2 linked regions of the Homo sapiens genome follow. The protein of the gene in region 2 binds, or shares a complex with, the protein of the main gene of each other region. Each region holds a gene or a part of one and is shown on either strand. Other genes may lie near its edges.

The links. Proteins that work in one complex are often made in the same cells at the same time.
Region 1: the proteins of PPP2CA (region 2) and PPP2R5A are in contact, whole or in part, in a cryo-EM structure (PDB 6NTS), measured with the Homo sapiens proteins. Residues at the interface, in NP_002706.1 of Homo sapiens: Arg121, Gln122, Gln125, Tyr130, Asp131, Leu134, Ala140, Trp143, Arg268; in NP_006234.1 of Homo sapiens: Glu146, Glu147, Glu149, Thr281, Lys283, Lys316, Phe317, Trp318, Pro319, Lys320, Thr321, Ser323, Gln324, Lys325, Ser362, Ser363, His364, Phe365, Trp407.

What each region holds. Positions count from the first base shown.
Region 1 is NC_000001.11:212,351,280-212,355,027, reverse strand, and holds part of PPP2R5A (serine/threonine-protein phosphatase 2A 56 kDa regulatory subunit alpha isoform), read right to left. Parts: intron 2,211-3,748; exon of another isoform or gene 2,078-2,210; intron 1-2,077. UniProt on the Homo sapiens protein: The B regulatory subunit might modulate substrate selectivity and catalytic activity, and might also direct the localization of the catalytic enzyme to a particular subcellular compartment.
Region 2 is NC_000005.10:134,224,506-134,228,253, reverse strand, and holds the start of PPP2CA (serine/threonine-protein phosphatase 2A catalytic subunit alpha isoform), read left to right. Parts: upstream 1-2,180; 5' UTR 2,181-2,392; coding exon 2,393-2,494; exon of another isoform or gene 2,495-2,497; intron 2,498-2,699; exon of another isoform or gene 2,700-3,045; intron 3,046-3,748. UniProt on the Homo sapiens protein: Catalytic subunit of protein phosphatase 2A (PP2A), a serine/threonine phosphatase involved in the regulation of a wide variety of enzymes, signal transduction pathways, and cellular events.

The sequences.
Region 1 (3,748 bases), on a different chromosome or scaffold from region 2:
GATACGTTCTAAGAAATGTGTCATTAGGCAACTTCATCATTTAAATGTCACAGGGTGTACTTAAACCTAGATGGTATGGCCTACTACACACCTAGGCTGTATGGTGTAGCCTTTTGCTCCTAGGCTACAAACCTGTACAGGATGTTCTTGTACTGAATACCGTAGGCACTGTAGGCAGTTGTAACAATAGTATTTGTGTATCTAAACACGAAAGGTACAGTAAAAATATAGCATTATAATCTTATGGGATCACCATTTTTCTTTCTCTTGGAATCACATTTCTCTCTCTCTCTCTCTCTCTCAACATTTCTCTCTCTTTTTGATGAGGCCTCACTCTGTTGCCTAGGCTGGAGTGTAGTGACATGATCAGAGGTCATTGTAACCTTGAACTCCTAGGCTTATTGTAACCTTGAACTCCTAGGCTTAAATGATCCTCCTGCCTCAGCCTCCCAAGTAGCTGGGACTACGGGTGTATGCCACCACATCTGGCTAATTTTAATTTTTTACTTTTTGTAGAAACGAGGTCTTGCTCTGTTGCCCAGGCTGGTCTTAAAGTCCTGGCTTCAACCAATCCTCCTACCTTGGCCTCCCAAAGTGCTGGGATTACAGACATGAGCAACCATGCCCAGTTCCATTTTTATTTTTTAAGAGACAGTCCAGACTTGCATTGTCGGCCAGGCTGGGGTGCACTGGTGTGATCACAGTTCACTGCAACCCCCTAGGCTCAAGAGATCCCCCTACCCCAGCCTCCCAAGTAGCTGGGATTACAGTCCTGAGCCACCACGCCTGTCTGGGACTGACATTTTATATGTAGCCTGTTATTTTTATTTATTTATTTATTTTTGAGACAGAGTCTCGCTCTGTCACCCAGGCTGGAGTGCAGTGGCACGATCTCGGCTCACTGCAACCTCTGCCTCCCGGGTTCATGCTATTCTCCTGCCTCAGCCTCCTGAGTAGCTGGGACTACAGGCGCCCGCCACCAGGCTCAGCTAATTTTTTGTATTTTTAGTAGAGACGGGGTTTCACTGTGTTAGCCAGGATGGTCTCGATCTCCTGACCTCGTGATCTACCCGCCTCGGCCTCTCAAAGTGCTAGGATTACAGGCTTGAGCCACAGCGCCCGGCCCGTAGCCTGTTATTAAACGAAATGTCATTATGCAGCACATGACTGTAAATAAGTGAGGTGGTTCAATATTGTGCAGAGATATTTTTCCTGTACTTAATTTATAAGTAAATTTAATATAATTTCAATCAAATGCCAATTGAATTATTTTTTGGAACTAGAAACATTTATTCTAAAATCCATAAATATAAGCAAATAAGAATTGTTTTTTTGGTGGGGGGAGTTAATGGAACAGAACCTGTATTATGGATATCAGCAACTAAAACAAGATTATATTGGCAAAGAAATGGAGAGAAAAGATATATATGAGTATCTAGATATACTCATGTATATATGGATTTTAATATATGACAAAGGTGGCCTTTCAGTTCCATGGGAAACAGTGGTGGTACTGGGACAGGTAGCTCACTATTTAGAAAGGAAAAATGTAGCAGGCTCCTTTGGTTGGCAGACTTCTATGATGATCTCATGAGCTTGTTAACTGTCCTCACACCCTTGTGTAATCCCCTCTCCTTAAGTGTGAGCTGTCCTAGTGACTTGCTTCTAACGAACAGACTGTGGCAAAAGTGAAAGAATGTCACTTCATGAGTAAGATACAAAAGATTGTGACTTCTGTCTTACTAGTAGACTCGCTGTCTTGGCTTTGATGAAGTAAGGTGCCATGCTGGAGAAGCCTGGGTGACAAGGATCTGAGGGTGGGCTCTGGCCAACAGCCAGCCAGGAACTGAGGCTCTCAGTCCAACATAACTTGACAAACTGAATTCTGCCAACATACATGTGAACTTAGAAGCAGATCCTTCCCCATCTGACACTTTATATGAGACTCAACTTCTGGCCAACACTCCAACTGCAGCTTTGTAAGAGACCCTGAGCAGAGGGCCCACCTAAGCCATGACCAGATTCTGGATTCACAGCAACTAAGGCAACAAATGCTTGTCATTTTTCCTCCCAATGGAATGGTATTTTCCCAAAATCTTGCAGATCAGTTACAGCAAACAGAACTATGACCATCAAGGAAAACTGTCACTCTTGGCTTCTTTTTGACCACAGCAGCTACATGGAAGCAGCTGCAGCTTTGATAAAGGCCATAAATGCTTGCTATTTTAAGCCAATAAATTTTGTGATCATTTGATATGCGTAATTGAAAATGAATGCAGGCCAGGCATGGTGGCTCAGGCCTTTAATCCCAGCACTTTGGGAGGCCAAGGCAGGCTTGGGCCCAAGAGATCAATACCAGCCTGGGCATCATGGTGAAACCCCATCTCATCTTTACCAAAAATACAAAAAAATTAGCTGGGCATGGTGGTGCATGCCTGTAGTCCCAGCTACTTGGGAGGCTAAGGCAGGAGGATCACCTGAGCCTGGGAGGTCAGGGCTGCCGTCAGCCACAATCGTACTACTGCACTCCATCCTGGGTGATGTGGTGAGATCCTGTCTGAAAAAAAAAAAAACCCAAAACACAAACAAACAAACCCAAATGTAGTTCCTTACCCTCATCATACACAAATTTCAATGTCGGGCAGTATTGAATAACGAACACTGGGTTGACTAGTGGCCCCCAAAAAGATGTCAATGTGGGCCAGGTGCAGTGGCTTACAACTGTAATCCTAGCACTTTGGAAGGCCAAGGAAGGCACACTGCCTGATCTTAGGAGTTTGAGACCAGCCTGGGCAACATGATGAAACTCCATCTCTACTAAAAATACAAAAAAAAACCTAGCCGGGCGTGGTATCGGGCGCCTGTTATCTCAGCTACTCAGGAGGCTAAGGAACAAGAATTGCGTGAACCCAGGAGGTGGAGGTTGCAGTGAGCCGAGATGGTGCCACTGACTGCACTCCAGCCTGGGCAACAGAGTGAGTCTCTGTCTCAAAAAAATAAATAAAATATAAAATAAAATAAAAATAAAATAATAAAATAAAATATAAAATAAAATAAAAAAGAAAAATAAAAAAATTATTTTGGGGCTCAAGTTAGATTTTCTTGGAATAAGAACGGTGTTTTGTTTTGTTTTGCTTGTTTTATAAAAATGCAGCTTTGAGTGGAAGGAAAGGTTTACACTGCCAAAAAAATAAAAGTTTTGAAAGTCATGCCGACTCTTCATTTTTTTCCTCTTTACATGGAAACTTAGCTGTAATGAATATTTAGTTAATTCTTCCACTCTGCACTTTTTTCTTTTTAGACGGAGTCTCACTCTGTTGCCCAGGCTGGAGTGCAGTGCTGTGATCTCGGCTCACTGCAACCTCTGCCCTCCTGGGTTCAAGCCATTCTCCTGCCTCAAGCAATTCTGCCTCAGTCTCCCAAGTAGCTGGGATTACAGGTGCCCGCCATCACGCCCGGCTAATTTTTGTATTTTTAGTAGGGATGGGGTTTCATCATGTTGGCCAGGCTGGTCTTGAACTCCTGATCTCAGGTGATCTGCCTGCCTCAGCCTCCCAAAGTGCTGGGATTACAGGCTTGAGTAATAAACTAACAAAAGCTCTGAGCTACTTATAATTTGTAGAAAGCTTTGATAGGAATGCCTGCTTTCCAGAAAATTAGTATTAAGGCTTAAACCCAAGTAATATGGCCGTAATTTTGGTGCTGGAATGGCCTATGTTAGAAATTGCAAGATCTCTATATCGAGAGA
Region 2 (3,748 bases):
TCCGTCTCTACTAAAAATATAAAAATTACCCGGGCATGGTGGCGGGTGCCTGTAATCCCAGCTACTTGGGAGGCTGAGGCAGGAGATTTGCTTGAACCTGGGAGGCAGAGTTTGCAGTGAACCGAGATTGCACCACTGCACTCCAGCCTGTGCAACAGAGTGAGACTCTGGCTCAAAAAAAAAAAAAAAAAAAAAAAAAAAAGAGAGAGAATCTAGGCAAAGAGAAATAATGTTGATTCTGTTCCATATGTCAGACCTTGGAAGGTCAACTGCATGACTGTGGCTGAGACTTTGTACTTGGGAGTGTGCAGTTTTAAATCCTGACCACTATCTTAGGCAAGTCCCTTCTCTTTTCTGAGTGCCTGTCTGCTTCTTGCCCCATCAGACAGTTCTCACACAGGTTCATGGCAACGGTAAAGAATAAGATTAGACAGCACACTGGGTATGGCTTTATAATCACGGGCACTAAGTGATGATTTTTTCCTTATTCATTCCACTTGGTCTTAACTCTTACCCTTCTATTGTTTGGGGATGTTAACTGCAAAACAGGGACAGAATTTGGGCTAAAGGGTCTTTTTCCCAGTCTGGTAAATTAAGTATGTGATAAGACTTCTAGAAGAGTAGATTTAAGGTACTTTCTTTTGTGCACACTAATGGGAGGTGTGAAGGGAAAGCAGAATTGCAATTTCCAGCCTAGGGAGGCCAAGCCAGTCGGCCTTGCCAAACACGTTGTCTTGGATAAAGGAGGATTTTCAGTCCTGCTATTGGCTGATGGGGCCTCCAGTGCCTTCTTCAGCCTGTTGGTGGGGATGATGCCCTCAGAGCCGCAGAGTGAGCAGTCTCCTCCCAAGCATCGCTGAGCACTTGGGTGTGGAAGGGTTGCCTGATACTGAGGGTGGGGTTCCTGGAAGACAGGCGATCAGGTTCAGCTCTTGCCTTGCCCTTTATGGTTAAATGTTCTTTGGAAAGCTTCTATATCTTTCAAATCCTGGGGGCATTATGATCTCTCTTCTGCCTATCCCAAACCATCTTCAGCCAGTACTGTTGGGAGAATACAAGCTCCAGGGCATGGTCCCTGGTCCGTCTGGATGACCCCTCCGGATCTGGCATATAGCTGGCGCTCTATGGAACCAGATATTTATGTAAAAGCAGGGACAATGGAATGTGAAAACGTTTCGCAAACTCCAAAGCGATTCATAACCAGACAGAGGTCCAATCCTAGGGTATACGAGCTCTCTCTTTTAAGCACGTATCACAGCTGCTTCTCACGCCACCGAGACGCGGTCAGGACAGGTGCATCCATCTTCTCTGGGCTTCCCCTCTTGAAAGTAGGCCAGGGCGCGCAGGGGTTGAGGGTCTCTCATTCCCAGAGAGAATTAAACTTGGAGGAAAGCAACCACCGGCGAGGAGCGGGGCGCGTGGAAGCGAGCCGCGGTCCGAGGCCCAAAGAAAAGCCCAAGCCTCGCCCCCGCCATCGCGCCCGACGAGACACCTAGGTCCGGGGACGGGTGTGTGCCGCGGAAGTCAGGTGCACTGCGCAGCACTCCCCCGGTAGGTACACGCTCCTCCACCTACGAGTGACCTAATTACAAGGTGCCAGCCGCGCCCAGAGGTGGGGGTGGTTAATCCAAGCGGCCACTCGCTGCCCGTTCCTGCCCCCAAAGATGACGGAAACCCACACGATTACAGAGCCGCAGCACCCCAGATGAGCCACGGGGTCGCAATTCTCGTTTCCGTGATCGGACTGCCAGGCCCCAGGTGAGGAGCTGAGTTCATCACCAGAGCGGCCTTCCCAGGGGAACCAGTTACAGGCTGCCAGTGGCCCCGGCTTCCATCCGGTCTGCGCCTGCGCGCGGCCCAAGCCCTCGCCTCTCCTGGAATAGTGCTCAGGGATTAGTCCGGTTCGCCGCTGTGCGCACTGCGCATGCTCCAGCTCCATCCTTCCCTTCCCCCACCACCCCGCCCTCCGGGAGCCACGCCCAAAAAGTCAAGGCGCTTCAGTTACCAGCCGGCTACGTCGCGCCTGCGCTTTGACCCCCAGTTTGCGCCCCAACTCCGGTCGTGCGGCCGCCCGGGGAGGGCTCTGCAGTTGCGCAGCTTGCTCCCCGGCCCTTTTCCCCTCCGCTCCCCGCCGCCTCCTGACGCCGGGCGTGACGTCACCACGCCCGGCGGCCGCCATTACAGAGAGCCGAGCTCTGGAGCCTCAGCGAGCGGAGGAGGAGGCGCAGCGGCCGACGGCCGAGTACTGCGGTGAGAGCCAGCGGGCCAGCGCCAGCCTCAACAGCCGCCAGAAGTACACGAGGAACCGGCGGCGGCGTGTGCGTGTAGGCCCGTGTGCGGGCGGCGGCGCGGGAGCAGCGCGGAGCGGCAGCCGGCTGGGGCGGGTGGCATCATGGACGAGAAGGTGTTCACCAAGGAGCTGGACCAGTGGATCGAGCAGCTGAACGAGTGCAAGCAGCTGTCCGAGTCCCAGGTCAAGAGCCTCTGCGAGAAGGTGAGCTGTAGTACGGCTGCGGACAGCCGCCGCGGGGCCGAGCCCGCCGAGGAAAAGGCGGCCGTGAGGAGGGTGCAACATGGCGGAGGCCGCCGGTCCGGGCCCCCCGAGTCTCCGAGACCGGCGCCCATCCTGGCCGGCGGCGGCTTCCTAACGACCCGGCGCCCCCTGCCTCCCGCGCAGGGATTGGTTGCCGCCGCCGCCTAAAATGGCGCCGTTCACTCGACTCCTGGGCTTTTGAGTCAGCCGGCCTTGGCGCCAGACGAGGTGGCAGGGGGAGCGGAGACCCTGTGGGTCATCGTCAGGGACGGTTTTGAGGGTGAGCTGGCTTGGATTCTGCGGCTTGGGAATGGAGCCTGGGCCTCTCCGGTGGGCTGAGTAAGAGTCTTGCCGCTGGTACCCAGGCCTAGTTAGGTCCAGAGCTGCCCAGAGGATCCCCCAAAGGCAGTCTTGTTAGGCCGTATCCCAGAACATACCTAAAGGTCACACAGCTTTAGTACCCCTTGGTGGTTTGTATTAAACTCACCAAGCGATCTTCTCCAGAAATCAAGGTAAGGGGTGTCTTTAAGAATTTTTAAATTATTCTCTTAACCTAATTTTTACGAAGGTCATGGTGGTAGCTATAAGGGAGGAGTGTAACTTATTTTTCATAGTTGGAAGAAATCGGGAATTTGGTGAGTCATACTACATAAGGAGCTTTTGGATTGGAAATCAAGTGTCGGTTGAATATGATTTATATGCTGACTCAAAGCCTTCTCTAAGCTTAACACACTTGGCATTTTGCCGTTTATTTTTAAAATGAACAACATAAAATGGAAGAGCGGTAAATTTTGTATCTTTGTTGCAAAAATTACTTGATAGTATTTTGTGGCTGCAAGTAGTAGTAGTGATAATAACTGTCGACTGAGATTGTATTCCAGACATTGTGCTTAGTGTTTAAATAATGTCTCACATACACTGAAAATAGAATGTTGTAGTCCACTTAGTAACACTAAACTTTATATTAGCTAATTCCCTTTTGTTTTCCCCTGGGGGTTGGGGAAACAGGTAGTTAATTTAGCTATTAGCTTTGTGTTGTATTTTTAAATTCTTGTAACTCAGTTTTCTAAAGTACACAAAATGCTGATCTCTGCTGTGAACATTTTAACTTCCCTTTTCAAAATTAACTTTGCAGCACGTCACTTTAGTACAGAATAGTGGAGTATCATATTAGCATTTTGTATCCGTGAAAAGAATTAATGGAGAACTATTATC